Regions from separate parts of the Homo sapiens genome. Here region 2 is linked to region 1. Evidence: fine-mapped expression QTL. A gene starts in region 1. The other region holds a variant in brackets. All regions are shown on one strand. Distances are between the middles of the regions. Region 1 holds the start of SIN3B (SIN3 transcription regulator family member B). Region 2 overlaps NWD1 (NACHT and WD repeat domain containing 1).

What was found. PIP is the estimated chance that this variant, and not a neighbour inherited with it, causes the effect.
Region 2: its variant is fine-mapped to the expression of SIN3B in whole blood (INTERVAL, PIP above 0.99).

The regions. Positions count from the first base shown.
Region 1 is chr19:16,822,005-16,837,832 of GRCh38, reverse strand. It overlaps SIN3B (SIN3 transcription regulator family member B), which reads right to left and starts at 8,435. Exons shown (of 19, transcript NM_001297595.2): 1 at 8,293-8,435; 2 at 7,936-8,042; 3 at 6,186-6,339. The coding sequence starts at 8,412. RefSeq lists enhancers at 682-1,183, 3,483-3,572, 8,208-8,709, 11,826-12,503 and a silencer at 8,288-8,467.
Region 2 is chr19:16,793,799-16,809,626 of GRCh38, reverse strand. It overlaps NWD1 (NACHT and WD repeat domain containing 1), which reads right to left. Exons shown (of 19, transcript NM_001007525.5): 15 at 15,074-15,164; 16 at 11,741-11,895; 17 at 9,465-9,741; 18 at 1,491-2,041. LOC124904648 (a long non-coding RNA gene) reads left to right here. Exons shown (of 3, transcript XR_007067150.1): 3 at 11,667-13,648. Among named protein-coding and RNA genes, the nearest start is that of SIN3B, 28 kb to the left of the region's middle. The variant A/G (reference allele first, on the strand shown) is at 7,217.

The DNA of each region.
Region 1 (15,828 bases):
TACCCAGAGAATCAGGCATCCTGAGATCAGCCCAGACTTCTCACTCTCACTGACACCCCCGCTCCTGATCTACATCATCATCCACTCTGCCCCCATCACATGGGAACCCCCTCTGGTCCTTGTCACCAGTCACTCTGTCCCCATCACTCAGGGCACTTCTCTGGTCCTTATCACTGTCCACTCCGTCCCCATCACTCGGGGGATCCCTCTCCAGTCCTTGTTACCATCCACTCTGTCCTCATCACTGTCTACTCAGTCCCCATCACTTGGGGACTGTCTCTGGTCCTTGTCACCATCCACTCTGTCGCCATTGCTGTCCACCTCTGTCCCCATCACTCGGGAGGCCTTCCCTACTCCTTGTTACCATCCATTCTGTCCTCATCACTTGGGAATTGTCTCTGGTCCTTGTCACCATCCTCTCTGTTCCCATCACTTGGGACCCTCTCTGGTCCTTGTCACCATCCACTCTGTTTCCATCACTGTCTACCCCGCCTCCATCACTTGGGGCCCCTCCCTGGTCTCCCAGGGGCCTCCTGACCCCTCATTCTCAGCACAGCAGCAGAACCGCCTCCCAGAACCATCCAGTGGTTCTCACGCTCCTGGCTCCCTCTCCCCCTTCTCTCCTTCAGCTCCTGACCCTGCCGTTCTCCTTGGCTGTTCCTCAAGCACACCCACTCACTCTCACCTCAGGCCATCACTCCCCACCAGGAACAGTCCCTCATGAAACAGGTCCTGCCCACAGCAACCTCCTCCCACCCTTCCCTGGCCTGCTCCATCCTCTCTCTGCCCTCTCCCATGCGCCACCCGCATCTGCCCATCTGTTTCTCATCGGACCCCCCACCTTGACTGTGCAGGAACCCTGAAAGCAGGGCCTCTGAATAAACCCCAGGGCCTGGCTCGGAGAAGGGGTCACCGCCTGCTCCATGAGCCAAGAAGATACAAACACAAGAATCGACTTGTTGACAACTAGCGGGACTTCCCCCAGAGAACAGCCAGGGGGCTCCCTTTGAATGTCGAGGGGCTGCTTAAGTTAGGAGCTGCACGTTAAGGGGTTATCTCTGTCTCTGTCCAAGCCAGCTGTCATCTTCCACGAGGCAGGGTCTGCCCTGAAGAGGACCCGCTAGCTGAGAGCGGCCATGTTCCCACCAGCATCCAGTTTCTCATTCCTGCACCATGCACTGCTCCCTGGCGACGTTCCAGAAGGTGGATACAGTCATGAACAAGACAGTGCAGGGCCCACCTCATCTTAAGGACTCACCGTCAACCAAGGAAGGAAAACCAATAAGAAACAATGCATTCTGAACTTCTTTTCCTAGCCGTTTTGAAATACATAACCCAGGGTGGTGTAAGAATGACACAGGGTAGGGACTAGGGGGCTCTCTGTGGAGCTGACATTACAACCAAGGCCTGAATTACCAGACAGTAAATGATGCTGACTCAGGAGGCCAAGGCAAGGCTCCAGTAAGAAGCTGTTCCTTCCTCCAAATTCCCCAGGTCGTCACTGGCCACACACCACGGCCTGTGTCTGTCTTCCCCTTTAGACTCGTGTTCTCAACCTGAGCAACTCTGCCACCCAGGGGACACTCGGCAACACGGGAGACACTTTAGGTTATCACATCTAGAAGCATCTGGTGGGTGGAGGCCAGGGAGGCTGCTCAAATACCCTTCAGTGTGCAGGACGGCACCTCGCCATAAAGAACAGTCTGGCCCCCAAAGCTGAAGACACCCTGCGCCAAAGGCTGCCCGAGGCTGGGACTCTCTTATTCACCTTCCTTACCACCTATGGGCCACTCCCTACTTGTCAGTAGCTGGCAGGCTTTGTGATAAAATTGGGGGGGGAAAAAGATACTTCAAAACAGTCAAACTAGAAAAACTAAGCAACAGAGAATACTGGCCAGGCGTGGTGGGTCACACCTGTAATCCCAAAACTTTGGGAGGCCAAGGCAGGAGGATCACTTGAGTCCAGCCTGGACAACATGGTGAAACCCTGTCTCTGTTTTAAAAATGTAAAAAAGGCCAGGCACAGTGGCTAACGCCTGTAATCTCAACACTTTGGGAGGCTGAGGTGGGGGATCACTTGAGGTCAGGGGTTCGAGACCAGCCTGGCCAACATGGTGAAAACCTGTCTCTACTAAAAATACAAAAATTAGCTGGGTGTGGTGGCACATGCCTGTAATAGCAGCTACTTGGGAGGCTGAGGCAGGAGAATGACTTGAACCTCAGAGGCGGAGGCTGCAGTGAGCTGAGATCACGCCATTGTACTCTAGCCTGGGTGACAGTGAAATGGTGTCTCAAAATTAAAAAATAATTCAATTAAAGTAAAAAAAAAAAAAAAAAGAACTTTGGGAGGCCGAGGTGGGCAGATCATGAGGTCAGGGGATTTCGAAACCAGCCTGACCAACATGGTGAAATCCCATCTCTACTAAAAATACAAAAATTAGCTGATAGTGGTGGCAGGCACCTGTAATCCCAGCTACTCAGGAGGCTGAGGCAGGAGAATCACTTGAACCCGGGAGGCAGAGGATGCAGCGAGCCAAGATCGTGCCATTGCACTCCAGCCTGGGCAACACAGCGAGACTCTGTCTCAAAAAAAAAAAAAAAAAAGATGGCCAGGTGCAGTGGCTCATGCCTGTAATCCCAGTACTTTGGGAGGCCGAGGCAGGCAGATCACGTGAGGTCGGGAGTTCAAGACCAGCCTGACCAATATGGAGAAACCCCGTCTCTACTAAAAATACAAAATTAGTCGGGCGCGCTGGTGCATGCCTGTAATCCCAGTTACTCAGGAGGCTGAGGGAGGAGAATCGCTTGAACTGGGGAGGCAGAGGATGCGGTGAGTCGAGATTGTGTCATTGCACTCCAGCGTGGGTAAAGAGCGAAACTCTGAAACTCTGTCACAAAAAAAAAAAAAAAGAAAGAAAAGAAAGAAAGAAAGAATATCACCAGGGCCTCTGTGTGTGGGAAACCCTGTGAGGCTTTCAGACGATGGCCTCTCAAAGGACTCCAGGGAGCCGAAAGCTCAAAGGACTCCTGAAGCCACGCGAGTCATGGCCTGGACCTGGGATATCTCTCATGTTTCTGTCCTGAAGCCACACAAACAACAGCCCAGACTGCTGGGAAACAGGGCTGGAAACCTGACAGCACCTGTGTCAATATCAACTGGAAGCCAGTGGGCTCCCAGGGGCCCCCGAAGAGAACAAACTTCTACACCTAAGCCTGGAAATGACTGTTCCCAGGCTGCAGCACGATGACCAAGGCCCTGCTGAGTAGCTACTAAGTGAAAGTTCTTTTCAAGCCTTTCCCCAAGTCGATGGGTCTGCACCGTCATCATTGTCACCTAAGCCACCTACGGGGAGACAAGACTGCCAGCCCTCCACGGTTGGGGACCCGCAGCTACTTAAAGGAAGAGCCAACTCCAAATACAACCAGTGTGGCGCCTGTCAAGATCTAGCCCTGAAAGCCGAGTTACTCCACGGGCAGGGACTCTGCTGAAAGGCAATTTCCACATGCAGGACGCACAGTTCACATCTTTTCACTCTGGCTCTTTCTGAGTGAGTGACAGGAACGAGACCCAGAGTTTCCACAGCATTCAGGCTCTGCAAAGTGCTCTGGTGGACGCTGCTATTGCAAATGAGCTTGGCTTTCTCCCGCAGTCGTGACTGTTCTGGAGATCAGTCTTGCTAAGGCTTTCATGGTCTAAGACACAAGCAGTACATCTGGATCCTGGGGCTTCATTTGCAAACAGGAAATGGAAGGCTCTTCAGAGTTCAGTGGCCACACGCTTCCAAGTTCCCCTTTAAAGCTGAGATTCAGCTGGGTGCGGTGGCTCACACCTGTAATCCCAGCACTTTGGGAGGCAGAGGTGGGCGAATCACGGGGTCAGGAGTTCGAGACCAGCCTGACCAACATGGCGAAACCCCCATCTCCACTAAAAATACAAAAAAATTAGCCGGGCATGATGAAGCGTGCCTGTAATCCCAGCTACTCAGCACGCTGAGGCAGGAGAATCTCTTGAACCCAGGAGGTGGAGGTTGCAGGGAGCCGAGATTGCGCCACTGAACTCCAGCCTGGGTGACAGAGCGAGACTCCTTCTCAAAAAAGGCAAAAAAAAAACCCTGAGACTCGCTCCTTGGCTTTCAGGAGACAACAGGCTGATGGCAGAGAGGGTCTTGCACAGAGAAGCAGCAGAATTTTTTTTTTTTTTGAGACGGAGTCTTGCTCTGTCACCCAGGCTACAGTGCAGTGGCACAATCTCTGCTCACTGCAACCTCCGCCTCCCAGGTTCAAGCAATTCTCATGCCTCAGCCTCCCAAGTAGCTGGGATTACAGGCATGCTCCACTGCGCCTGGCTGATTTTTGTACTTTTAGTAGAGACAGGGTTTCACCATGATGGCCAGGCTGGTCTTGAACTCCTGACCTTGTAATCTACCCATCTCGGCCCCCCAAAGTGCTGGGATTACAGGCGTGAGCCACTGCGCCTGGCCGAGAAGCAGCAGAATTGACACACACCTTGCACATGGAATTAATACAAAAGCACTGCCACATTACCCTTCGCTGTTCTCTTTCCAACTGACTGCGGAGTGTCAGATCCCTAATTGATTGGACGCTCTATCATCTCTTCCATCAAAGAAGACCTACCAAGTGCTTCCAGCAGTAGATTCTGACACTCCCTGCTAAAACTCTCGAGGCAAGGACTGGAGGAGGTTGGGAGAGCTGGTCCACTTACACCGGTGGTTCTCAACAGGGGCACTTTTGCCCCCCAGGGAGACACCTGGCAATGTCTGGAGACATTTCTGGCTGTCAGAACTGAGTGAAGGTCTGGTAGGTACACGCTACAGATCCTGCTAAACACCCCACAATGCACTGGGAAGCCCCCAACAGCAAAGAATTATGCCTTAAATGGGAAATAGTGTTGAGGTGGAAAAAATGACAATGGTCATCTTATAAAAGGAAATCTTAAGTAGGCTTTCTTTTTCTCAGAGGCGCTAGTAAGCTCAAGCATGAAGAGACTGCAGAGATAGAAGGGGCAGTGAGCCAGGCACAGTGGCTCACTCCTGTAATCCCAGCACTGTGGGAGGCCAAGGTGGGCACATCGCTTGAGGCCAGGAGATCGAGACCAACCCTGGGCAACATAGTGAGACCCTGTCGCTACAAAAAAAATAAATAAATTAGCTGGCCGTGGTGGTGCACGCCTGTAGTCCTAGCTACTTAGGAGGCTGAGACGGGAGGATCACTTGAGCCCAGGAGGTTGAGGCTGCAGTGAGATATGATGGCACCACTGCACTCCAGCCTGGGCAACAGAGTGAGAACCTGTCTTAAAAAAAAAAAAAAAAAAGGAGGCTGGGCACGGTGGCTCACGCCTGTAATCCTAGCACTTTGGGAAGCTGAAGCAGGCAGATCACTTGAGGTCAGGAGCTCAAGAACAGCCTGGCCAACATGAAGAAACCCCATCTCTACTAAAAATACAAAAATTAGCTAAGCATGGTGGTGCACACCTGTAATCCCAGCTACTCGGGAGGCTGAGGCAGGAGAATTGCTTGAACCTGGGAGGCGGAGGTTGCACTGAGCTGAGATTGCGCCACTGCACTCCAGCCTGGGTGACAGAGCCAGACTCCGTCTCCAAAAAAAAAAAAAAAAAAAAAAAGAGGGCCAGCACCTATCACCCAAGAAAAAAGGGACCAAAGCAAAGCCAGGAGTCCCAGCTGAGCTAATGATCCTATCAACAATTAAATGAAACACAGCCAACATAAACGTGGCTACTCACACACCATCTCGACCACTTTATTTTGTAGGTGGTACTGAGAGTGATCAGAGGCAGACGAGGACATGCTTAAATACAAGGGCAAGCCTGCCTGGTATGCTCGCTGGGAAAGCCTCAAGCCAAGACCTCAGCAACTGCTGAGGTGGTTATTTAGACTTCACACAAAATTCTGCGTTAGGAGGATACCTCCCTGACATCCACTCTTGATTTAAATCTTCCAAACAGATCAATTTGGGAGGCAGAGGCTGCTTGTGTAGGTGTTTCCATATCTATTTTGATTTGTGCTAGAAGCAATGAGCACGTCTAGAAAAAGAACAGATCTTAAGTGGCTTTCTAGCAATGATACAGGAGAGACACGTGGCCCAACCTGAGTAGCAAGACATACTCGGTGAAGGCTGAGATCACCCGAACCACTGTAGTGGCATACCTGGCTTGTCAGAGGCGACTGTATGTTTAACTTGCCATTCTTGGGAATGTCTATTCTATATCCGAGGGGAAGAAAAGCGTTGAATCCAACAATGAGGTCAGGGTGCTCGTGGAAGAGCTGCGAGACACGTCTGATGACTCCAGGAGTATCGATGCTAGAAGAAACAACGGAAGTGGGCAAAAGGGTCTTGGGAAATAAATGAAAAATATAATCTATTCCCCACTCCCTTGATACTGCCACATAAAAACCTTCTCAACAGACAACAAAGGAACCTAAAATGTGACCCACCAGGCGCAGTGGCTCATGCCTGTAATCCCAGCACTTTAGGAGGCCGAGGCAGGCAGATCACCTGAGGTCAAGAGTTCGAGACCAGACTGGTCAACATGGTGAAACCCTGTCTGTACTAAAAATACAAAAACGAACTTGGAGTGGTGGTGCGTGCCTGCAGTCCCAGCTACTCAGGAGGCAGAGGCACAAGAATCACTTGCACCCGGGAGGCGGAGGCTGCAGTGAGCCCAGATCACACCACTGCACTCCAGCCTGGGCGACAGCACGAGAATCCATCTCAAAAAAAAAAAAAAAAGTGCCCCCATGTGATAGCATCTGTACACCATGACCTATCTCCTGACTGGCTAGGCCTGAGCTCCCTGTTCCCTCCTGGTGAGAACCAGAGAATACTGACATCGCTCAGCTCCCCTAAAACACTCCAAGAATGGGTACTCGGTTCTGAAAATGTCAGGAGAGCCAACCGCAAGGCCTGGACTCCAAGAAATGGCAGGAGGCCAAAGTCCTCTAAGCAATGTGAAAACTTCCCTCATTTTGTATCAGATAGAGATGACTATGACACAGGTTTCCATCTGAGCAAACAATTGCAATGCATAAATACCAATGGTACTGCCAAGAATGGGAAAGGTGTAAGAAAAATAGGAGGGGAGAGATGGGGTCTCCCTTCTGGCTGCATTGCAGCCCAGCCCTTAGCACTGGGCTCCCGGAAGGAAACCAGGCCAGCCCCACCATGTTTCCTAAGAGGGGGCAGCAGTATGGTAAGCATGTGACTTCCAAGAATCTGAGTCAGAGGGTCTGAGTTCTAGTGACACCTCTGCCACTTAGGTGGGTCCCTTACCCACTCCAAACCTCAGTGAGTCTCCTATAAAAACAAGGGCATGATCCCAGGGTTTCCCATCTATCTGTAATCTTCCTTGATTCTGGGCCTGCAAAATCATCTCATGTGTTTTAAACGTTTTCTGTGTGCCAGCTCCCTTACTAAGCATTTTATGCGTCTTACTTCCAAGCAGGCCTGGGACCACAGTGAGCCCAGAGAAGCATCTTGAGGACAAGATTAAAGGGGAAGAGGGTGCCAAAAATTTCAATCATCAAGACAATAACATTTTACAGCGCTTGAAAATAAAAATCAAAATGGGTCCCACCAAATCTTTCATGAACAAAACTAATATAAAAATCAACATATTAAATCAAGGCAGGATTTGACTCTATGAGTGTGCACGGCCTCGCCCTCCCTGCCTCCCCCCAGATCCCTGTCCTGCTTCCAGGAATCCCCACAAAGCTCCACAAGGTGGGTACTACCCATTTCCATTTTTGTTACGAGAAGGAGCTAGGGCTCTGAGAGATTGGACAACCTGCGCAAGGTCACCCGGCTAAGGGGGCAGGCTGGAGAGGGGAGGTCTCACCCCGCTAGGCCCGATTCCGGCCCAGGGGGGTCCCCTGAGGTGGAGAGGGGCCCCGCTGGTACCTCTGGCTTTTGAACTCCTTCATGATCTCCAGGAAGCCGTTGTAGGTGGCAGGGTCGCTGCCAAAGCGGATCTTCACCTGGTCCAGATAGGTGAGGGCGTCTTCTACCTGCAGAGAGGGGGAGGGTCCCGGTGGGCCCTGGCCGCGGAACGAGGGGACGAGGGGCCGGGGTCCCTGAGGGGAAGGGGATGGGCTGGGCTTTCGGAGGGCCGAGGTGAGAGGTGAGGGGTGAGGGGTCCGGGGCAGTGCAGAGGGGAGGCCGAGGTGGGGCTGGGGCCGGGCGGGGCCTGGGTGAGGGGCGCCCGCCCGCGGGGTCCAGAAGATGGGTTCCCCGAGGGAGGGCGGGGACGCCACTCACGTGCACCGGCAGCTTCTCGTGGCCTGCGGAGCCCGAGCGACCCCAGCGGGCGCCGCTCAGCCCCCGGCCCGCGGGGCCGCCGGCACCGCTGCCACCGCTGCCACCGCCAGCGTGCGCCATGTCCGAAGTCGGAGCTGCGCCCCGCCCCGCCCCCGCCCGAGGTCCTGCCGCGCATGCGCAGCCTCCGCCTTTGGAGGCGGGGTTTGATGACGTTGAGGGGCGGTGCTCTTTGAGGGACTCTTCTGAAGACCTTCTCCTTAAGATTGGTATCATAATTAATGATTTATATAGCAGGGGTAGGCGAGCCAAGACCCGCCGCCTACTTTGTCCGGCCCCGCAAGCTCAGAATTATTTTTACATGTTTACATAGCCGGGGGAAAAATCCAAAGAAGAATAGTCTATGACCTGTGAAAAGTTTGTGAAATTCACATTTGAGGGTCCCTGAATAAAGTTTTATTAGCACACAGACACGCCCACGCGTTTACCTGGCTTCTCTGCCTGCTTTCGCCTTACAACAGAGTAGGTAGTTGCTAAAGATCCTACAGATCTGCAGACCCTGAAGTATTTACGATCTGGCCTTTTATGGAAAAAGTTTGTTGGCCCCTGCTTTATAGAGTTGACGGGACGATGAGGTATGAGCCCCCAGCGCCCTAATATAGGGCCTTGCGTGGTGAATTTTTGCTAAATGGCCTTTAAGTTAGTCCTACTCCTCCCATCTTCACTTCCCTATCCTTGGCCCCGTCACTTCCCATCTGGACCAGTTTAGGAGCCTCCTAACTCTGGTACTTTCTTTTTTTTTTTTTTTTTTTTTTTTTTTTTTTGAGACAGAGTCTCGCTCTGTCGCCCAGGCTGGAGTGCAGTGGCGCGATTTCCGCTCACTGCAAGCTCCGCCTCCCGAGTTCACACCATTCTCCTGCCTCAGCCTCCTGAGTAGCTGGGACTACAGGCGCCCGCCACTGCGCCCTGCTAATTTTTTGTACTTTTAGTGCCACCCCACCTGGCTCTAACTCTGGTACTTTCTCAGCCCTGATACTATCAAGAACTCTAGGCTGGGGATGGTGGCTCACGCCTGTAATCCCAGCACTTTGGGAGGCCGAGGCGGACGGATCACGAGGTCAGGAGATAGAGACCATCCTGGCTAACACGGTGCAACCCCGTCTCTACTAAAAATACAAAAAATTAGCCGGGCCTTGAAAAAAAGAAAAAGAAAATGAAAAAATTGGCTGGGCGCCGTGGCTCACGCCTGTAATCCCAGCACTTTGGGACGCCGAGGCGGGCAGATCACCTGAGGTCTGGAGTTGGAGATTAGCCTGACCAACATGGAGAAACCCCGTCTCTACTAAAAATACAAAATTAGCCGGGCTTTGTGGCGCATGCCTGTAATCCCAGCTACTCGGGAGGCTGAGGCAAGAGAATTGCTTGAACCCGGGAGGCGGAGGTTGCAGTGAGCCAAGATCACGCCATTGCACTCCAGCCTGGGCAACAAGAGCAAAAACTCTGTCTCAAAAAATTAATTAATTAATTAATTAAATAATAAAATAAAATGAAAAAATTAGCTGGGCGTGGTGGTGCACACGTTTAGTCCCAGCTACTCGGGAGGCTGAGGCAGGATTGCTCATGCCCAAGAGTTCAAGGCTGCAGTGAGCCATGATCTTGCCACTGCACACCCCAGCCTGGGAAGCATAGCAGTGCTTTTTTTTTTTTTTTTTTTTAAAGAGCATCTCATCTCTTAAAAAAAAAAAAACAGAAAAACAAAAAACTCCACTTTTTCCACCACTCCTTCCAAACCTCCAAGGTCTTCCTATTTCTAATGAGATGAAATCTAAGCACCTACATTGCAGGCTGTCAGAATTGGTCCTTAGGAACCTTTTCCTGCAGGATTTTCCAAGCAAACTGCCTGCCTCTGTGCAGAACTTCACACAATTGCCTGACCAACCTGGCTGCTTCCTGGTCCCAAGCATTGGCACTCACCATTTCCTTTGCCAGAAGTACTGTCATGCCTCTTTGTTATTCAGAAAACACCTATACATCCTTCTAAACGCAGCCCAAATATCCCTTTCCCTCAGGAAGTGTTCCCAGTCCCCTTCTATGTCTCCCCTCAGTCCCTTGTATTTCATATTTGTTTTGTGTCCGTCTCTAATACAAATCCCTGACACAGTCTCTCAGTCAGCATTCATCAAATAAGTGAACGTTCAATTAATGACCAAGTGCTTTCTCTTTTTATAAGTGAAGAGGTGCAGGAAAGTTGAGAGTAAATTGGCATCGAGTGCATCATTTACCAGGCACCTTGCTAAGTGTCAGGAATAGAATGGTAAAAAGGAACGCAAATTTGGCCGTTAAGAGCTTTTAGTCTCTCAGGATAGACAGGAATCTAGTAATCACACAAATGTAAAGTTTCACATGTAACAAATACTTTAAAGAGAAGGTATACATGTAACAGTTCCTAAATTTCTGTTGCTATGACTGTGTAACAAATGAGCCCTTGACAATCCCAGCACTTTGGGAGGCCAAGGTGGGGGCATGCATTGAGGCCAGGAGTTTGAGACCAGCCCAGGCAACATAGCAAGATCCCATCTGTACAAAAACATTAAAAAGAAAGAAAAATGGAGAGAAAAAATAAAAACATTGTAAGGTCTGGGCTTTCTGTAAAAGAAAATAAAAAGCAGCTCAAGACTTAGAAGCTTCAAATGACAACAACATTCACGGGGCAAGTGGCTCATGGCTGTAATCCCAGCACTTTGGGAGGCAGAGGTGGGTGGATCACATGAGGCCAGGAGTTCAAGACCAGCCTGGACAAGATGGTGAAATCCCATCTCTACTAAAAATACAATAATTAGCCAGGTGTGGTGGCACACACCTGTAATCCCAGCTACTTGGGAGGTTGAGGCATGAGTATCGCTTGAACCCAGAAGGTGGAGGTTGCAATGAGCTGAGATTGCGCCACTGCACTCCAGCCTGGGGAACAGAGCAAGAGCAAGACCCTGTCTTGAAAAAAAAAAAAAAAGAAAGAAAAGAGACATTCATTTTACTCTTCAATCTGCAATTTGGGCAGGCTTGGGAGGAATAACTCAACCTTGGCATCAGCTGGGTGGCTCAAAGTCTGGGGGCTGGAATCACCTGAATGTTTGCTCACACATATGTATGTCAGTTGCTACAGGCTACAGGCCGAGACCCTCGCTGGGGCCGTTGCTTGGAATACCTACATGTGGTCTCCTTGCAGCCTGAGCTTCTTCACAACTACCGTTCTAAGAACAAGTGAGCGTGTGAGCCAGGTGGGAATCATATCATCTTTTCTTTTTCTTCTTCCTCTTCCTCTTCTTCTTCCTCTTCTCCTTCTCCTTCTTCTTCTTCCGGAGATGGCAGGGGTTGGGGTGGGACTCAGGGTCTCAGGCTGGCCCAGGCTGGCCTCAAACTCCTGGACTCAAAGGATCCTCCCACGTCAATCTGTTGAGTAGCTGGGACTACAGGCATGCATCACTGCACCCAGCTCCCATATTACCTTTTCTCACCCAGACTCGGAAGTCACGCAGAATCATTTCCATTGCATTCTTTCCATACAGGCTGTTACAAAGTTTTTCCTAAATTCAAGAGGAGGGCAAATGGCCAAGAGTATCATGTGGGACAGGAAATATGTTGTGGCTATTTTTGGAAAATACCACCTGTTACCTAGGGAAACCTAACCCAGTCTTGCAGGAGATGAGGGAGGCTTCCCAGAGGAGGTGGCATTCTAGCTGAGATCTGAAGAATGCGTAGGCATTCATCATGAGAAAAATCACGAACAGCTGTGATTTTTGAGGTGGGAGACAGCATGGTACATTTCAAGAGTTTTTTTTTTTTTAAGACGAGTTTCCCAGGCTGCAGAGAGGGAGGGGAAGAAAGAGAGTACAAGATAATCCCGGAGCAGCCAGAGGAGCGGAACACACAGCACCTTATGCACTGAGTTCAGGCTTTAGCATTCACGCTGGTGGAAACCATCCAAGGGCTTTGAGCGGAGGAGCTGCAAGTTCAGGTTTGCATTTGAAAGTGATCACTCTGGCTGCTCTGCAGGAAAGTGATTGGAGCGGAGCCAGGGAGGGTGGAGGGAGGCTGTTTCATCATTTAGGCAAAGGACGATGGTGGCTTAGACCAGGATGGGAGCAGTGGAAGTAGAGAGCGGTGGGTGGAAGGGAGTGGTATTTAGAAAGTAAAGCATGGAAGATTTGTGGCTCCCAGCCAGGAAGAGCAGCGAAGGCAGACTGAACACTCTGTGGCCACCAGATGTCTGGACAGTCCGTTTCTTACCAAAGCCTCCCAGTGTTACAGGAAATGGGTCCCGATCCAGACCCCCCAGAGAGGGTTTTTGGATTTCACGCAAGAAAGAATTCAGGGAGAGTCTGTAAAGTGAAAGCAAGTTTATAAGGAAAATAAAGGAACAAAGAATGGCTACTCCACAGACAGAGCAGCCCCGAGGGCCGCTTATTCCCCATTTTTATGATTTATTTCTTGATGATATGCTAAACAAGGGGTGGATTATTCATGCCTCCTCTTTTTAGACCATAGAGGGTAACTTCCTGACGTTGCCATGGCATTTCTAAACTGTCTTGGCGCTGGTGGGAGTGTAGCAGTGAGGACCACCAGAGGTCATTTTGATTTGGGTAGATTTTGGCCGGCTTCTTTACTGCAACCTGTTTTATCAGCAAGGTCTTTATGACCCGTATGTTGTGCTGACCTCCTATCTCATCCTGTGACTAAGAATGCTTTAACCATCTGGGAATGCAGTGCAGTAGGTCTTAGTCTTATTTTACCCAGCCCCTATTCAAGTCGGGGTTCCTCTGGTTCAAACACCTCTGACACTGTTACGGGAAAGGGGTCCCAATCCAGACCCCAAGAGAGGGTTCTTGGATCTCACGCAAGAAAGAATTCAGGGCCAGTCCATACAGTAAACTGAAAGTAAGTTTATTAGGAAAGTAAAGGACTAAAGAATGGCTACTCCATAGACAGAGCAGCCCCCAGGGCTGCTGGTTGCCCTTTTTCTTAGACAGAGTCTCGTTCTGTCGCCCAGGCTGGAGTGCAGTGGCGCCATCGTGGCTCACTGCAAGCTCCGCCTCCCAGGTTCATGCCATTCTCCTGCCTCAGCCTCCCGAGTAGCTGGGACTACAGGCGCCTGCCACCACACCTGGCTAATTTTTTTTGTATTTTTAGTAGAGATGGGGTTTCACCATGTTAGCCAGGATGGTCTTGATCTCCTGACCTCGTGATCCGCCCACCTTGGCCTCCCAAAATGCTGGGATTACAGGTGTGAGCCACAGCGCCTGGCCGCCCATTTTAATGGTTATTTCCTTTTGAGACGAAGTCTTACTCTGTCGCCCAGGCTAGAGTGCAGTGGCGCGATTGCAGCTCACTGCAACCTCTGCCTTCCAGGTTCAAGCGATTCTCCTACCTCAGCCTCCCAAGTAGCTGGGATTACAGGTGCGTGCCACCACGCCTGGCTAATTTTTGTATTTTTAGTATTAGAGACGGGGGTCTTATCATGTTGGCCAGGCTGGTCTCAAACTCCTGACCTCAAATGATCTATCCACCAAAGCCTCCCAAAGTATTGGGATTACAGGCATGAGCCACCGCGCCTGGCCAGTTATTTCTTGATGATACGCTAATCAAGGGGTGGATTATTTATGCCTCCCCTTTTTAGACCATATAGGGTAACTTCCTGATGTTGCCATGGCATTTGTAAACTGTCATGGCACCGGTAGGAGTACAGCAGTGAGGACAACCAGAGGCCACTCTTGTCTCCATCTTGGTTTTGGCTGGCTTCTTTACTGCAGGCTATTTTATCAGCTAGGTTTTTTTTGTTTGTTTGTTTTTGTTTGTTTTAGACGAAGTTTCACTCTTGTTATTCAGGCTGGAGTGCAATGGCGCAATCTTGGCTCACTGTAACCTCCACCTCCCAGTTCAAGTGATTCTCCTGCCTCAGCCTCCCGAATAGCTGAGATTACAGGTGCGCACCACCAGGCCCGGCTAATTTTGCATTTTTAGTAGAGACGAGGTTTCTCCATGTTGGTCAGGCTGGTTTCAAACTCCCGACCTCAGGTGATCCACCCACCTCAGCCTCCCAAAGTGCTGGGATTACAGGCATGAGCCACCGCGCCAGGCCAGTAAGGTCTTTATGACCCGTATCTTGTGCTGACCTCCTAACTCATCCTGTGACTTAGAATGACCTAACCATCTGGGAATGCAGCCCAGTAGGTCTCAGCCTTATTTTACCCAGCCCCTATTCAAGATGTTGTTGCTCTGGTTCAAATGCCTCTGACATCAGCAACCTATTAGTCATCGTCCTTGAGGGCCAACAGAGTTGTCCCACAGTGTGCCCCTCCCCACAGGGAGTGTGGCTTCTACTCAAATTTGTTTTCTCTCAAATGATCAGCAAAGGCCCTCTTTCATTTGGGGAAGAGGAAACTGTTACCGAAAAGGGGTCTTCATCCAGACCCCAAGAGAGAGTTCTTGGATCTCATGCAAGAAAGAATTCTGGACAAGTCCATAAAGTAAGTTTAAGAAAGTAAAGGAGGCCAGGTGGCTCACGCCTGTAATCCCAGCACTTTGGGAGACGAAGGCAGACAGATCGCTTTTTCTCTACAAAAAACAAACAAACAAACAAAACAAAACAAAAAATTAGCCTGGCGTGGTGGTGCACGTCTGCAGTCCCAGCTATTTGGGAGGCTGAGGCAGGAGAATTGCTTGAGTCCAAGAAGTCAAGGCTGCAGTGAGCCATGGTCGTGTCACTGCTCTCCAGCCTGGGAAACAGAGCAAGATCCTGTCTCAAAAAAAAAGAAAAAAGGCTAGGTGCAGTGGCTCATGCCTGTAATTCCAACACTTTGGGAGACCGAGGAAGGCAGATCACCTGAGTTCAGGAGTTCGAGACCAGCCTGGTCAAGATGGTGAAACCCTGTCTCAACTAAAAATACAAAAATTAGCTGGGCATGGTGGTGGACGCCTGTAATCCCAGCTACTCGGGAGGCTGAGGCAGGAGAATCACTTGAACCTGGGAGGCGGAGGTTGCAGTGAGCCGAGATCGCACCATTGCGCTCTAGCCTGGGTGACCAGAGCAAAACTGCATCTCAAAAAATAAAAATAAATTTTAAAAATGAAGAAAAAGAAAGTAAAGGAATAAAAGAATGGCTACTCCACAGGCAGAGCAGTGATATGGGCTGCTCGATTGCATATACTTACAGTTATTTCTTGATTATAGGTTAAACAAGGGATGGATTACTCATGAGTTTTCTGAGAAAAGGGGCGAAGATTTCCCAGAACTTAGGGGTCCCTACCCTTTTAGAACCTATAGGGTAACTTCTGGAAGTTGCCATGGCATTTGTAACTGTCATGGCGCTGGTGGGAGTGTCTCTTAGCATGCTAATGTATTATAATTAGTGTATAATGAGCAGTGAGGACAACCAGAGGTCACTTTCACACCATGCTGATAAAACCCTGCATCCTGGCCCGGCACGGTGGCTCACGCCTGTAATCCCAGCCCTTTGGGAGGCCAAGGTGGGCGAATCACCTGAG
Region 2 (15,828 bases), 28 kb after region 1:
GCCGAGATCGCACCACTGCACTCCAGCCTGGGTGACAGAGCAAGACTCCATCTCAAAAAAAAAAAAAGAAAAAGAAAAAGAAAAAAAAAAAGAAATAGCACAGAGCCAGGATTAGGGTGAAGAGAGTGAAGCAGCACTAAGCCAGTGCAGGATTTGATCCAGTTTTTACCTATAATGTTGAGATTTTGTTCTTCATGGAATTTTGGTATTCATTTTAGATTTTTAAAAATATTGCATTAAAATATTACTTCTTGGCCAGGTGCAGTGGCTCAAACCTGTAATCCCAGCACTTTGGGAGGCCAAGGCAGGTCACTTGAGGCCAGGAGTTCAGCCTGGACAACATGGCAAAACCCCTTCTCTACTAAAAACACAAAAATTAGCTGGGCATGGTGGTGCTTATCTGTAATCCCAGCTACTTGGGAGGCCGAGGCGGGAGAGTTGCTTGAACCCGGGAGGCTGCAGTGAGCTGAGATGGCGCCACTGCATTCCAGCCTGGGTGACAGAGCAAGACTCCATCTCAAAAAAAAAAAATTATTTATCTTCATTGCTGAGTTTTTGTTTTTTGTTTTCTTGAGACAGGCCTTGCTCTATCACCCAGGCTAGAGAGCAGTGGCATCCGGGCTCAATCAATCCTTCCGCCTCAGCCCTCCAAGTAGCTGGATCACAGGTGCACATCACCATGCCCAGCTAATTTTTGCATTTGTTTGTAGAGATAAGGTCTCCCTATGTTGCCCAGGCTGGTCTCCAGCTCCTGGCCTCAAGTGATCCTCCTTCCTGGGCCTCCCAAAGTGCCGGGTGAGCCACTGCACCTGGCCTACCATTGCTGAGCTTTTTGGTACTCCTTTGAACTTTGTAGCCAGGTCCGGTGGGTCATGCCTGAAATCCCAGTGCTTTGGGAGGCTGAGGCGGGAGGATCACTGGAGCCCAGGAGATTGAGGCTGCAATGAGCTATGATTGTGCCACTGTACTACAGCCTCGTGACAGTGGGGTCCCTGTCTCTTTAAAAAAAAAATGAAAACAAAAAAAACTTTGCTTCTGAGACAAATGCCTCACTTTTCTTTTCTTTTCTTTTCTTTTTTTTTTAAACGGAGTGTCTGTAGTCAGGCTGGAGTGCAGTGGCGTGATCTTGGCTCACTGCAACCTCTGCCTCCCAATTTCAAGCGATTCTCCTGCCTCAGCCCCCCAAGTAGCTGAGATTACAAGCATGCAACACCACACCTGGCTAATTTTTGTATTTTTAGTAGAGACGGGGTTTCACCATGTTGGCCAGGCTGGTCTTGAACTCCCGATCTCAGGTGATCCGCCTGCCTCAGCCTCCAAAAGTACTGGGATTACAGGCGTGAGCCACTGCGCCTGACCAAGTGCCTCATTTTCATCACCCCAGTCCCATCCTGGTCGATGGCCCATGGTGTGTGCTTAGTAAATGATGGCTATCTATCAGTTTTCCAATGCCTGGGTCTAGCATGAACATGGGGAGGCGGGCCACCCACCGTGTAGCTCATCTCGAATTTCCACTTGCGTGCCTGCAGGTCCCAGAGACACAGCAGGGCATCCTCAGACCCGCTGACCACCAGCTGCTCCTTGTGGCTGACCTCCACACAGGCAACTCGGCTCCTGTGGGTCTCCAAGGGAAACGCTTTGGAAGTTGCACACTCGTAAAGAAAGAGGTCCCCATTGGTCATGCTGTAGACCACGCGGTAGTCCGTCAGAATGGCCACGCTGGAGAGGGTCTCGGGCAGCTGAGTGTAAAAGGTGTATCTTGGCCCATCGATGACCGGGCAGGGGTCCCCGGAGGTGATGTCCAGCACCAGGACGATGTTGTCATAGGCGATGGCCAGGCGGTCCTCGCACTTGCTCAGGGACATGCAGTTGATTGCTTTCCGGGCCTCGGGAGGGGGAATGCATATCACGTCCTGCCTGGAATTCAGGGGGAACACAAGGACGACCCCCGACACGAGGCCCGTAAATAGGAGCTTGCGCTGCTCAGCAACCTCCAGACACCTGATCTCACTGGAGGTGTCCAGGGAATCTTGTTCCTCGCCTGCCAGGGAAGAAAAATGAGAATGACTTACACTGAGAGTGAATCACAGCAGCCCTGCTTCCCTGGTGGTTTTTTTTGTTTTGTTTTGTTTTTGAGATGGAGTCTCACTCTGTTGCCCAGGCTGTAGTGCAATAGCACGATCTCAGGTCACCGTAACCTCCACCTCCTGGATTCAAGCAATCCTCCTGCCGCAGCCTCCCGAGTAGCTGGGATTACAAGTGTGTGCCACCACGCCCAGCTAATTTTGTATTTTTAGTAAAGGTGGGGTTTCTCCATGTTGGCCAGGCTGGTCTCTAACTCCCAACCTCAGGTGATCCACCCACCTTGGCCTCCCAAAGTGCTGGGATTACAGGCGTGAGCCACCACACCCGGCCTGGTGTTCATATTTTCTTTCTTTCTTTTTTTTTTTTTTTTTGAGACAGTATTCTGGAGTGCAGTGGCGAGACTGAAGCTCACTGCAGCCTCCAACTTTTGGACTCAAGTGATTCTCCTGCCTCAGCCTCCTGAGTAGCTGAGACTACAGGCGCCTGCCACTGTGCCCTACTAATTTTTTTATTTTTTGTTTTTTTTAGACAGAGTCTGGCTTCGTTGTCCAGGCTGGAGCGCAGTGGCACAATCTCGGCTCACTGTAACCTCTGCCTCCCAGATTCCAGCAATTCTCCCACCTCAGTCTCCCGGGTAGCTGGGACTAGAGGTGCGCACCACCACGCCCAGCTAATTTGTTTGTATTTTTAGTAGAGACGGGGTTTCGCTATATTGGCCAGGCTGGTCTTGAACTCCTGACCTCAAGTGATCCGCCCGCCTCGGCCTCCCAAAATGCTGGGATTACAGGCATGAGCCATCGCGCCCAGCCTATTTATGTATTTATTTATTAAGAGACGGAGTCTCACTCTGTTGCCCGGGCTGGAGTGCAGTGGCACGAACATGGCTCACTGCAGCCTCAACCTCTCAGGCTCTAGTGATTTTCCCACCTCAGCCCCCCAAGTAACTGGGACTACAGGCTCGGGCCACCACGCCCAGCTAATTTTTGTAGAGATGGGATTTTACCATGTTGCCCAGGCTATTCTTGAACTCCAGGGCTCAAACGATCCTCCCACCTTTGCCTCCCAAAGTACTGGGATTACAGGCATGAGCCACCATGAATTGTCCCATCTTGAAGCAAGGGGGCCAGACTTTTGTATTCCCACATCAGGCAGTCATTGACTGGGGCCATTTCAGGGGCGGTGGCCACATCCCCCTGCCATTTCCAGTTGAGAGGCTTCTTTCATCAGTGGGCAATTCCCAGGAGTAAAATGAAGGTGGGGGCACTGCTGGGTCTGCGAGAATTGGACAGTGAGGGATTTCTGAGTTTCTCACCAACAGTACTTGGCACAGTCCTGCTGGGAGGATAGAGGTATAGAAACTCCTGTTAATGGCAGGGCGTGGTGACTCACGTCTGTAATCCAAGCACTTTGGGAGGCCGAGGTGGATGGATCACCTGAGGTCAGGAGTTTGAGACCAGTCTGGCCAACATGGCAAAACCCTGTCTCTACCAAAAATACAAAAATTAACCAGGCGTGGTGGCAGGCACCTGTAATCCCAGCTACTTGGAAGGGAGGCTGAGGCAGGAGAATCGCTTGAACCCAGGAGGTGGAGGTTGCAGTGTGTCAAGATTACGCCACTGCACTCCAGCCCGGGCAACAGATGGAAACTCCCTCTCAAAAAAAAAAGAAGAAAAGAAAGAAAAAGAAAAAAGAAACTCCTTGTTAATGATGAAATAATAGGAGAAAGGAATCCTGATTTTCAAGCTGATTCTCAACTTCATTCAGTCGTTAATTTGGCAAACATTTTTAGAGTAACAGCCCACTAGGCAAAGCTCTGGGGGTTGGCAGGGAGCAAATCAAGTGAGGTTACAATTCTCGAGGTGCTTGTTTGCTGGTTGCAGGGTGAACCAGGGCCCAAGGAAATGGAGAGATGCCAGGTGCAGTGGCTCATGCCTGTAATCCCATCTATTCAGGAGGCTGAAGTGAGAGGATGGCTTGAGACCAGGAGTTCAAGACCAGTCTGGGCAAAAGAGTGAGACCCCTGCCTCTGCAAAAACATTAAAAAAATTAACCAGGTATGGTGGTGTGCGCCTCTAATCCCAGCACTTTGGGAGGCTGAGGCAGGCAGATTGCTTGAGCCCAGGAGGTCAAGACCACCCTGGGCAAGATAGAGAGACCTTATCTCTACAAAACACACAAAATTTGGCTGGGCACAGTGGTGCACACCTGTAATCCTAGCACTTTGGGAGGCCGAGGCAGGTGGATCACTTGAGGTCAGGAGTTCGAGACTAGCCTGGCCAACACGGTGAAACCCCATCTCTACTAAAAATACAAAAATAAGCCAGGCATTGTGCTGCACACCTGTAATCTCAGCTACTCGGGAGGCTGAGGCAGGAGAATTGCTTGAACCCGGGAGGCGGAGGTTGCAGTGAACTGAGATCACGCCACTGCACTCCAGCCTGGGTGACAGAGCGAGACTCCATCTCAAACAAAAGAACAACAACAAAAATAAAATAAAATAAAAATAAAAATAAATAAATAAATAAATATTTTTAAAAATTTTAAAGTCTCCAGGAGTCAGGCATGGTGGTGCACCTGTGGTTCCAGCTACTCAGGAGGCTGAGGCAGGAAGATCGCTTGAGCCCAGGAGTTCGAGGCTGCACTGAGCCGTCATTGTACCTCTTCACTCCAGCCTAGACAGTAGAGTGAGCCCTGACTCTTAAATAAGACAGAACAACAAAAAAAAGAGGCCCCAGGGAGCTTCTTTGCCCCTTTCTACCATGTGAGGACAAAGAAAATCTGGCCATCCATGACCCAGAAAGAGGACACTCACCAGATACCAAATTTAAAAAAAAATTAATTTAACCCAAGACAACAAAGTTGCTGGCACCTTGATCTTGGACTCCCCAGCCTCCTCCAGAAATATGATAAACAAATTTCTATTCTTTCTTTAAATTAAAAAAAAAAACAGAGAGACAGGGTCTCTGTTGCCCAGGCTGGAGTGCAGTGGCATTATCATAGCTCACTGCAGCCTTGAACTCCACGGCTCAAGCAATCCTCCTGCCTCAGACTCTGGAGTAACTAGGACTACAGGCATGTACCACCAAGCCCGATACCTTTTAAATTTTTTTGTAGAGGTGGGGTCTCACTATGTTGCCCAGGCTGGTCTCAAACTTCTGGTCTCGAACTTCTGGCCTCAAGTGATCCTCTCTCCTCAGCCTCCTAAAGTGCTGGGATTACAGGCATGAGCCACCACACCTGGCCCCATTTGCTATTCTTTCTAAGCCACCCAATCCATGGCATTCTGTTATAGTGGCCGGAATTGACTAAGACTGGTGCTCTACCTCTTCCAGGGCTCCCCATGGAATGATGCTGAGAGGGACTTTAGCTGAGCCTGCATTCTTGCTCAACCCTTTCCCCCGCCAGCCCCATTTTCTCATCTCCCTCTGGGGTTCTCCTGGAAACACCCCTCAATACATCACTTGTGCAAATATCCTCATCACAGATTCAGCTTCTAGGTAACCTGAATTAAAACAGGCCAAACGGAAACAACCAGATTGCCAACTACCTCATGCAGAAAATGTATAAAATGAAATCCTGTTTTTGACCAGCTACTTTCTTTTTCTTTTTTTTTTCGGGTGGTGGAGTCTCACTCTGTTGCCAAAGCTGGAGTGCAGTGGCATGGTCTTGGCTCACTGCAGCCTCCACCTCCCAGGTTCAAGCAATTATCCTGCCTCAGCCTCCCCAGTAGCTGGGATTACAGGCACACACCACCACGCCCAGATAATTTTTTTTTTTTTTTTTTTTAAGTAGAGTTGGGGTTTCGCCATGTTGGCCAGGCTGGTCTCCAACTCCTGACCTCAAATGATCCGCCCACCTCAGCCTCCCAAAGTTCTGGGATTACAGGTGTGAGCCACCACACCTGGCCATGACTAGCTAGTTTCCACCTGATTGAAGTTATAGGCGTGTTATGGACTGAAGATTTGTGTCCCCCTGACAAATTCCTATGTTAAAATCATCACCCTCTGTGGAATGGTATCAGGAGCTTGGGCCTGTCTTAGTTCATTGGTGTTGCTAATGAAAACCTGTTTTTGACTAGCTACTTTCTACCTGATTGAAGTTATAGGAATGTTATGGACTGAAGATTTGTGTCCCCACCCCCCCACCAAATTCCTATGTCAAAATCCTCACTCCCCATAGGATGGTATTAGGAGCTGGGGCCTGTCTAAGTCTGTTGGTGTTGCTATGAAGGACTACCTGAGGCTGGGTAACTGAGATGGTTTGGCTGTGTCCCCACCCAAATCTCATTTTGAATTGCAATAATTCCCACAGGTCAAGGCCGAGGCCAGCTGGAGATAATTGAATCATGGAGGCAGTCTCCCCCATACTGTTCTTGTGGTAGCGAATAAGTCTCATGAGATCTGATGGTTTTGTAAAGGGCAATTCCCCTGCACACACTCTCTTGCCTGCCACCATGTAAGACGTGACTTTGCTCCTCATTTGCCTTCTGCCATGATTGTGAGGCCTTCCCAGCCATGTGCAAATGTGAGTCCATTAAACCTCTTTCCTTTACAAATTACCCAGTCTCAGGTATGTCTTTTTTTTTTTTTTTTTTGAGACAGAGTCTGACTCTTGCCCAGGCTGGAGTGCAGTAGCAAGATCTTGGCTCACTGCAATTGCCACCTCCTGGGTTCAAGCGATTTCTGGCTAAGTTTTGGAATTTTAGTAGAGACAGGGTTTTACCATGTTGGCCAGGCTAGTCTCGAACACCTGACCTCAAATGATGCGCCTGCCTTGGCCTCCCAAAGTGCTGGGATTACAGGTGTGAGCCAGCAGGCCCGGCCTCAGGTATGTCTTTATTAGCAGTGTGAGAACAGACTAATACAGTAATGCATAATTATGAATAAGAGGTTTATGTGGCTCATTGTTCTGCAGGCTGTACAGGAAGCATGGTGCCAGCTTCTGCTTCTGGTGAGGGCCCCAGGCTGCTTCTTCTTAATACAAAAGGTGAAGGGGGTTGGGGTGTGCAGAGGTCATACGGCCAGAGGAAGCAAGAGAGAGGGAAGTGCTAGCTTCCTTTTTTTTTTTTTTTTTTTTTTAATTGAGATAGGGTCTTGCTCTGTCACCTAGGCTGGAGTGCAGTGGTGCAATC[A/G]CAGTTCACTGCAGCCTCAAATTCCTGGGCTCAAGCGATCATCCTGCCTCCATCTCTCAAGTAGCTGAGACTACAGGTGAATATCACCATGCCCAGCTCATTATTTTTATTTTTATTTTTATTTATTTATTTATTTTTGAGACAGAGTCTTGCTCTGTCACCCAGGCTGGAGTGCAATGGTGCTCAATGCAACCTCTGCCTGCCGGGCTCAAGCGATTCTCCTGCCTCCCTCCTGAACAGCTGGGATTACAGGTGCCCGCCACCACGTCCGGCTAATTTTTGTATTTTTAGTAGAGATGGGGTTTCACCATGTTGGCCAGGCTAGTCTTGAGCTCCTGACCTCGTGATCCACCCAACTCAGCCTCCCAAAGTGCTGGGACTACAGGCGTGAGCCACCATGCCCGGCCATTATTTTTATTTTTATTGCGACAAGGTCCATGTTGCCCAGGCTGGTCTTGAACTCCCGGCCTCAAGCAATCTTCCTGTTTCTGCCTCCTGAGTAGCTGGGGTCAGGTTCTTTTTAACAACCTCGCGAGAACTAACAGAGTTAGAACTTACTCACCACCACCACTGCCTTGCCAGGAGAGGGCATTAATCTATCCACGAGGGATGTGTCCTTATGACTCAAACACCTCCCGTGAGGCCTCCCTCCAACACTGGGGATTAAATTTCTTTTTTTATTGTTGTTTTGTTTTCAAACAGGGTCTTGTTCTGTCGTCCAGGCTGGAGTGCAGTGGCACAATCTCAGCTCACTGCAACTTCTGCCTCCTGGGCTCAAGTGATCCTACCACCACAGCCTCCCAAGTAGCTTGGACTACAGATGTGAGCCACTACACCGAGCTAATTTTTGTCTTTTATGTAGAGACGTCTGGTCTCAAACTCCTGAGCTCAAGTGATCCGCCCACCTCAGCCACCCAAAGTGCTGGGATCACAGGTGTGAGCCATCACGCCTGGCTTTTTTGTTTGTTTTTAGAGACAGGGTCTCACTCTGTCACCCAGGCTGGAGTGCAGTAGTGCGATCATGACTCACTGTAGCCTCAACTTCCCAGGCTCAAGCGATCCTCCCACCTTAGCCCCCAAAATAGCTAGAACAACAAGCACATGCCACCATATCCAGCTAATTTTTTTTTTGAGACAGAGTTTTGCTCTTGTTGCCCAGGCTGGAGTGCAATGGCGTGATCTCGGCTCACTGCAACCTCTGCCTCCCAGGTTCAAGCTATTCTTCTGCCTCAGCCTCCTGAGTAGCTGGGATTACAGGCATGCACCACCACGCCCAGCTAATTTTGTATTGCTTTAGTGGAGGTGGGGTTTTTCCATGTTGGTCAGGCTGGTCTCGAACTCCCGACCTCAAGTGATCTGCCTGCCTTGGCCTCCCAAAGTGCTGGTATTAGAGGTGTGACCCACCATGACTGGCCACATCCAGCTATTTTTTAAATTTTTAGTAGAAATGGCATCCTCTCATCTTGCCCAGGTGTTCTTGAACCCTAAGCTCAAACAATCCTACTGCCTCGGCCTCCCAGAGTGCTGTGATTATAGGTTTAAGCCACCATGGCCAGCCGGATATTAAATGCCAACATCTGGTTTGTAGGGCCAAACCTCCGAACTGTAGCAGAGTGACAGGGAAGTGATTAGATCATGAATGTGGGGCGTTCCTGAATAGGATTAGTGCCCTTATAAGAAGAGACACAAGAGATTTCTCTCTCTCTCTGGGGACACATCAAGAAGATGGCCATCTGTGAACCAGGAAACGGGTCCTCACCAGACACGAGATCTGCTTGCACTTTGATCTGGAACTTCCCAGCCTCCAGAATGTTGAGGAATAATGTTTCTTGCTTATGCCACCCAGTCTATGGGGATAATTTATTTTATTTTATTTTTCTGGGACAGAGTCTCACTCTGTCGCCCAGGCCGGAGTGCAGAGTCAGGATCCCGGCTCACTGCAGTCTTCGCCTCCCAGGTTCAAACAATTCTGCCTCAGCCTCGCAAGTAGCTGGGGATACAGGCATGTGCCACCATGCCCGGCTAACTTTTGTATTTTTAGTAGAGACAGGGTTTTGCCATGTTGGCCAGGCTGGTCTTGAACTCCTGACCTCAGGTGATCCACCCGCCAAGGCCTCCCAAAGTCCTGGGATTACAGGCGTGAGCCATGGGGCCCAGCCTGTGGGGATGATTTGTTACAGTAGCCTAAACTAAGACAGATGGCTCCAAGCCTTACCCACAAAAATGACCATACTTATACCTTACCAACCTTCTGCCAAGTCCCAAATAGTGACTTTGTTTTTGTCCCCAATTTTGGGGAAGTAGACGTAGCTTCCATTGTGGGACACTGCGGTGAGGCCGGTGCGGTCCAGAAATGGTGCAGGCACCCGGGACCTATGAGCATCGCTGAGATCCCAGACCTTGAAAGATGAGGACTGTGGGGAAGCAGATGCCACCAAAGCCCCGCCGCGGGCCAGCAGGCTCACGGGGGCCCCGACGCCTTCCAGGATGTCCAGAAGGGTCCCCTGTTCTGACAGACTCCACACCTGAGGAAGCAGAACAGGAGGGCAGATCTGACATCTTCTGTGGACAACTATAGTTCAGAAATACGCTTCAGCCCATTGGGCCAGGCGCGGTGGCTCACGCCTGTAATCCCAACACTTTGGGAGGCTGAGGCAGGTGGATCACCTGAGGTCAGGAGTTCGAGACCAGCCTGACCAACATGGAGAAACCCCATCTCTAATAAAAATACAAAAAATTAGCCAGGCTTGGTGGTGCATGCCTGTAATCCCAGCTACTCAGGAGGCTGAGGCAGGAGAATCGCTTGAACCCGGGAGGTGGAGTTTGCAATGAGCCAAGATCGTGCCATTGCACGCAAGCCTGGGCAACAAGAATGAAACTCCGTCTCAAAAAAAATAAAAATAAAAATAAATAAATAGGCCAGGTGCAGTGGCTCACACCTGTAATCCCAGCACTTTGGAAGGCTGAGGCGGGTGGATCATGAGGTCAGGAGATCAAGACCATCCTGGCCAACATGGTGAAACCCCATCTCTACTAAAAATACAAAAATCAGCCAAGCGTGGTGGTGCACACCTGTAATCGCAGTTACTCGGGAGGCTGAGGCAGGAGACTCACTTGAACCTGGGAGGCAGAGATTGCAGTGAGCTGAGATTGCGCCACTGCACTTCAGGCTGGCAACAGAGTGAGACTCCGTCAAAATAAAAATAAAAATAAATAAATAAGAAAATAAGAAATACACTTCAGCCCATTCATAAACCTAAGGTGAATTTTCAGGCTGTAAGTTCAAGGGCCTTCACATCTTCCCATTCCTTTAACTTACTCAGGCTTGAACCCATCAGCTTCCAGAGCAGTTCCCAAAGTGTGTTCCAGGGAACTCCTGGAGGGTGCCCTGTAAACCTTTTTTAGAGGGTGCCCTGTAAACCTTTTTTAGAGGGTCTGGAAGCTCAAAACTTTTAATGTTTTTTTTTTTTTAATTATTTTATTCTAGCCAGACATGGTGGCTCACGCCTGTAATCCCAGCACTTTGGGAGGCCAAGGCAGCTGATCACCTGAGGTCAGGAGTTTGAGACCAGCCTGGCCAACATGGCGGAACCCCGTCTCTACTAAAAATACAAAAATTAACCAGGCATGGTGGTGGGTGCCTGAAATCCCAGCTACTTGCGAGGCTGAGGCAGGAGAATTGCTTGAACCCAGGAGGTCGAGGTTGCAGTGAGCTGAGATCATGCCACACTGCCCTCCAGCCTGGGCGACTGAGTGAGACTTGGTCTCAAAAAATAAAGAAAATTATTCTTATTTTTTTGGAGACAGGTTCTTGTTTTGTCACCCAGGCTGAAGTGCAGTGGCGTAATCACAGCTCACTGCAGCCTCTACCTCCCAGGCTCATGTGATCCTCCCACCTCAGATTCCTGAGTAGCTAGGACTACAGGCACATGCCATGACGCCCGGCTAATTTTTGTGTTTTTTTGTAGAGATTGGGTCTTGCTATGTTGCCCAGGCTGGTCTCGAACTCCTGGGCCCAAGTGATCCACCTGCCTTGGCCTTCCAAAGTGCTGGGATTACAGGCATGAGCCACTGTGCACAGTCTATTTATCAATTTCTTTAAAACTGGAAAAAATAGCTCATAAGAAGGAGGGGGAAAAAAAGAGAACTTCAAGAGGCCTGAGACTAAAACACTGAAGATCTGCTATTTCACCATCTACTTTTCTCTCCAGCTTGGACAACTTTGAACTTAAATTGAGAATTTTCCTCCCCCACAACCCTGCTCCACTCTGAAGGCACAAATCTGCCCCCAAGGTTTGAGGATCAGTTTGGGAATGCTACCTCCTTTGTTGAACATTTCAGTAATTCTCACCCAGGTCTGCCACTGGGGCGGAGGATACACCCCCATATCCTCCCAATGAACTCACCTATTTTGCCTGCACTCATTTTTGTGGGTGTCTGTATTTTGCAGCCAAAAATCCCTAAAGAATCAGTGTCTGTTCCCGAGGTGGAGGTGAGGATGAAGGGTCCCAGATCTCCCCTCACCTGAATGAGCGCATCAAGGGACCCCGTGATGATCAGGTTGTTCTCAGTACCAAAAACAGCCGTCTCCACCATGTCTTCATGTTCCAGATCCATGGCCATGAATCGGCGAAAGCCCCTCGAGTCCGCCAAGAATATCCGCACCGATCTTCCAAAGCCTGAAACGGCAGGAACTGGGGTTACACCTCTCATGTCCAGAGGAGATTGAGGGTCATTCCTTCCATCAACAGAGGTGTTTTGGAGGCCGGATGTGGTGGTTCATGCCTGTAATCCCAGCACTTTGGGACGCCAAGGCGGGCAGATCACTCGAGGTCAGGAGTTCGAGATCAGCCTGGCCAACATGGTGAACCCCGATGTTTCATGTATTTTATTCTCTACTAAAAATACAAAAATTAGCCAGGTGTGGTGGCACATGCATGTAATCCCAGCTACTCAGGAGGCCGAGGCAGGAGAATTGCTTGAGCCCAGGAGGCAGAGGCTGCAGTAAGCTGAGATTGCACCACTACACTCCAGCCTGGGCAACAGAGCCAGACTCTGTCTCAAAAAAAAAAAAAAAAAAAAGAGATGTTTTGGAACCCCTGCTAGGTGCCAGGAGAAGGGATCCAGGACGGGGAAGGTGGATTCAGTCCTGTCCCCATCTGCACATAGCCCACAGCTGGTTGGGGGAGGGCCTGACTTCTGTAATCACTCATCAATTTTTTTTTTTTTTTGAGATGGAGTCTCGCTCTGTCACTGAGGCTGGAGTGCAGTGGCATGATCTTGGCTCACTGCAACCTCTGCCTCCTGGGTTCAAGCGATTCTCCTGCCTCAGCTTCCTGAGTAGCTGGGCTTGTAGGTGCTGACCACCATGCCTGGCTAAATTTTGTATTTTTTAGTAGATACCAGGTTTCACCATGCTGGCCAAGCTGGTCTCAAACTCCTGATCTCAAGTGATCCGCCCACCTCGGACTTCCAATGTGCTGGGATTACAGGCCTGAGCCACCGTACCCAGCCAGTAATCACTCATCTTAAGGAAACTTGTAAAGTTATTATAATGAAACTGTAAGTTCCTGGAGGGCAGGGACTGCCTATTTGGCTCATCATGGTATCTCAGAAACTAGCACAAAGCTGGGCACACAGCAGGCCTTTGATAACTATGATGGAAGGAAGGGAGGAAGGAGAGAGGAGAGTCAAGGAGGTAGAGAGGAAGAAAAGTAAAGAGGAAGGGAGGAAGGAGAGAAATGAGAAGGGGAAGAAGGAAGGAAGAAGAGGAAAGAAAGTAAGAAGGGAGAAAGGAAGGGATAGCGGCAGGAGGCAGGCAAATGCCTAGGCAGATAGGAATGGGTCCCCAGTGAAACTGTACCTTTGAACCAAAAACAGCCTGGGCTGCTGTTTCCAAATGAAATCCACAACCCAGAGTGAGAACTCCTGTTCCTGTTTGCCCACCCTTTCCTGATTGATTCTTTCTGAATAAGACTTTTGTGGCAGTGGCATGATCTTGGCTCACTGCAATCTTCACCTCCTGGGTTTAAGCAATTCTCCCACCTCATCCTCCCGAGTAGCTGGGATTACAGGCGCCTGCCACCATGCCCAGTTAATTTTTGTATTTTTAGTAGAGACAGGGTTTCACCATGATCATCAGAAGTTCAGATCAGAAGTTCACTGATCTGAACTTCTGATCTCAGGTGATGGCCCACCTTGGCCTCCCAAAGTGCTGGAATTACAGGCGTGAGCCACTGCACCTGGCCTGAATAATGCTTTTTAACCAATTGAATGTTACGTTTTCCAATACTACCTACCACCTGCCCCTCCCCCATCCTGTGCCTATAAAAACGCCCAGACTCAGCCACACTGAGAGAGATGACCCAACCTTCACATCCCCTCTCCCCTGAGAGCTGTTTTGTTGCTCAATAAAATTCTCTGTCCTTATCACTTTTCAATTGTCAGCATGACCTCATTCTTCTTGGACACGGGACAAGAGCTTAGGACTCACTGGATGCAGGTACCCAGGAAGGCTGTGACACTGTGGCCCTCTGTCCTTGATGGCAGAGGGAAGCTGCTCCACGCAATAGAAGCAGTGGTGGGGCCAAGCCAGTCCCAGAACTGCAGGCCAGAATGGGGAAAGGGGCTGACTGAACTGCTAACATGCCACCATCCATTGGGTTGCAGATGGTGGAACTAAAAGAGCAAATTAGGCCAGGTGTGGTGGCTCATATTTGTAATTCCAGCACTTTGGGAGGCAGACGCAGGCAGATAACCTGAAGTCAGGAGTTCAAGACCAGCCTGGCCAACATGATGAAACCCCATCTCTACTAAAAATACAAAAATTAGCGGGACGTGGTAGCAGGTGCCTGTAATCCCAGATACTTGGGAGACTGAGGCAGGAGAATCGCTTGAACCCGGGAGGTGGAGGTTGCAGTGAGCTGAGATCATACCACTGCACTACAGCCTACGCAATAGAGCGAGACTCGGTCTCAAAAAAAAAAAAAAAAAAAGGTAATTAGCACACTGTAACACCCCCTCTGGGGCTTCAGGGTCGTGGACCCCTTGTGTTTCCTTTGGGGTGACACATGGCCTGGTCTGCCCATGGGCCCTGCATGGAGCCTGGCCCTGTGTCAGTGCTTGAAGCAGCCAGCTGGACCCTACATTCACTTGCTCACATGCTCCCTCCTGCTAGGGGCTGAGTGCTCAGTCGTGGCAGTGGCCATGGGAGCCGCGGGCTGGGCCAAAAGCCAGATGTGACCCCACAGGCTGAATAAATGGGGTGCCCCCTGCTCCCAGCTTGGCAAAGAGGCCAAGAAAAATCCTGCATCAAAAGGAAAGAAAGGGCTGGGCGCAATGGCTCACGCCTGTGTAATCCCAGCACTTTGGGAGGCTAAGGTGGGCGAATCACCTGAGGTCAGGAATTCGAGACCAGCCTGGCCAACATGGTGAAACTCCGTCTGTACTAAAAATACAAAAATTAGCTGGGTGTGGTGGTGTGTGCCTGTAATCCCAGCTATTCAGGAAGCTGACGTGGGAGGATCGTTTGAGCCCAGAAATTCAAGGCTGCAATGAATTATGATTGAGCCACTCCACTCCAGTCTGGGTGACACAGCAAGACCCTATTTAAAAAAAAAAGAAAAATAATAGAAAAATAGTGTCTATGCTAGTTTATGTACCACAACTGCAGAGTTGAGTCTTTGCAACTGAGGTTGTCTCGTCTGGACTGCAAAAAATGTTTACTATGAGGCCATTTGGCAGAAAACGTTGCTAACCTCTGGCCCTAGGACTTCTCTCTGTTCCCAAGCCCCACCCCCTTCTCCAACCTGATCCTGATTAGCTTCCTCACTACTCCAAATGAGAGCTAAACGCTACCTGCGGCGAGGAGGGACTCATCTTCAGAGACCACCAGGAACCTCACAGCATCTGGAAGCTTCTCCAGCAATCTGTCCCCTTTGGAGGAAACCTGTGCAGAACCAGGGATGCCTGTCAGGCACTTCCACGGGTTAAGGGTTACAAGTCTGGAATTTTTTAATTTTTTAATTTTTATTTTTTTTGTTTTTGAGATGGAGTCTCACTCTGTCTCCCAGGCAGGAGTGCGGTGGTATGATCTTGGCTCACTGCAACCTCCGCCTCCCGGGTTCAAGCAATTCCCCTGCCTCAGCCTCCCAAGTAGCTGGGATTACAGGCACCTGCCACCATGCCCGGCTAATTTTTGTATTTTTAGTAGAGATGGGGTTTCACCATGTGGGCCAAGCTGGTCTCAAACTCTTGATCTCAGGTGATCCGCCCACCTTGGCCTCCCAAAGTGCTGGGATTACAGGCGTGAGCCACCATGCCTAGCTGACTCCATCTCTTAATAAAAATTTTAGCTGGGCATGGTGGTACACCCCTGTGGTCCCAGCTACTCAGGAGGCTCAAGCAGGAGGATCACTTGTGCCCCTAGGAGTTGGAGGCTGCAGTGAGCTATGATTGTGCCACTGCATTGCAGCCAGGGTGACAGACTGAGACTCTGTCTCTAAAAAATTTTTTAAATTAAAAACATAAAAGTTGGCCAGGTGTGGCGGCTCATGCTTGTAATCCCAGCACTTTGGGAGACCGAAGTGGGTGGATCACTCGAGGTCAGGAGT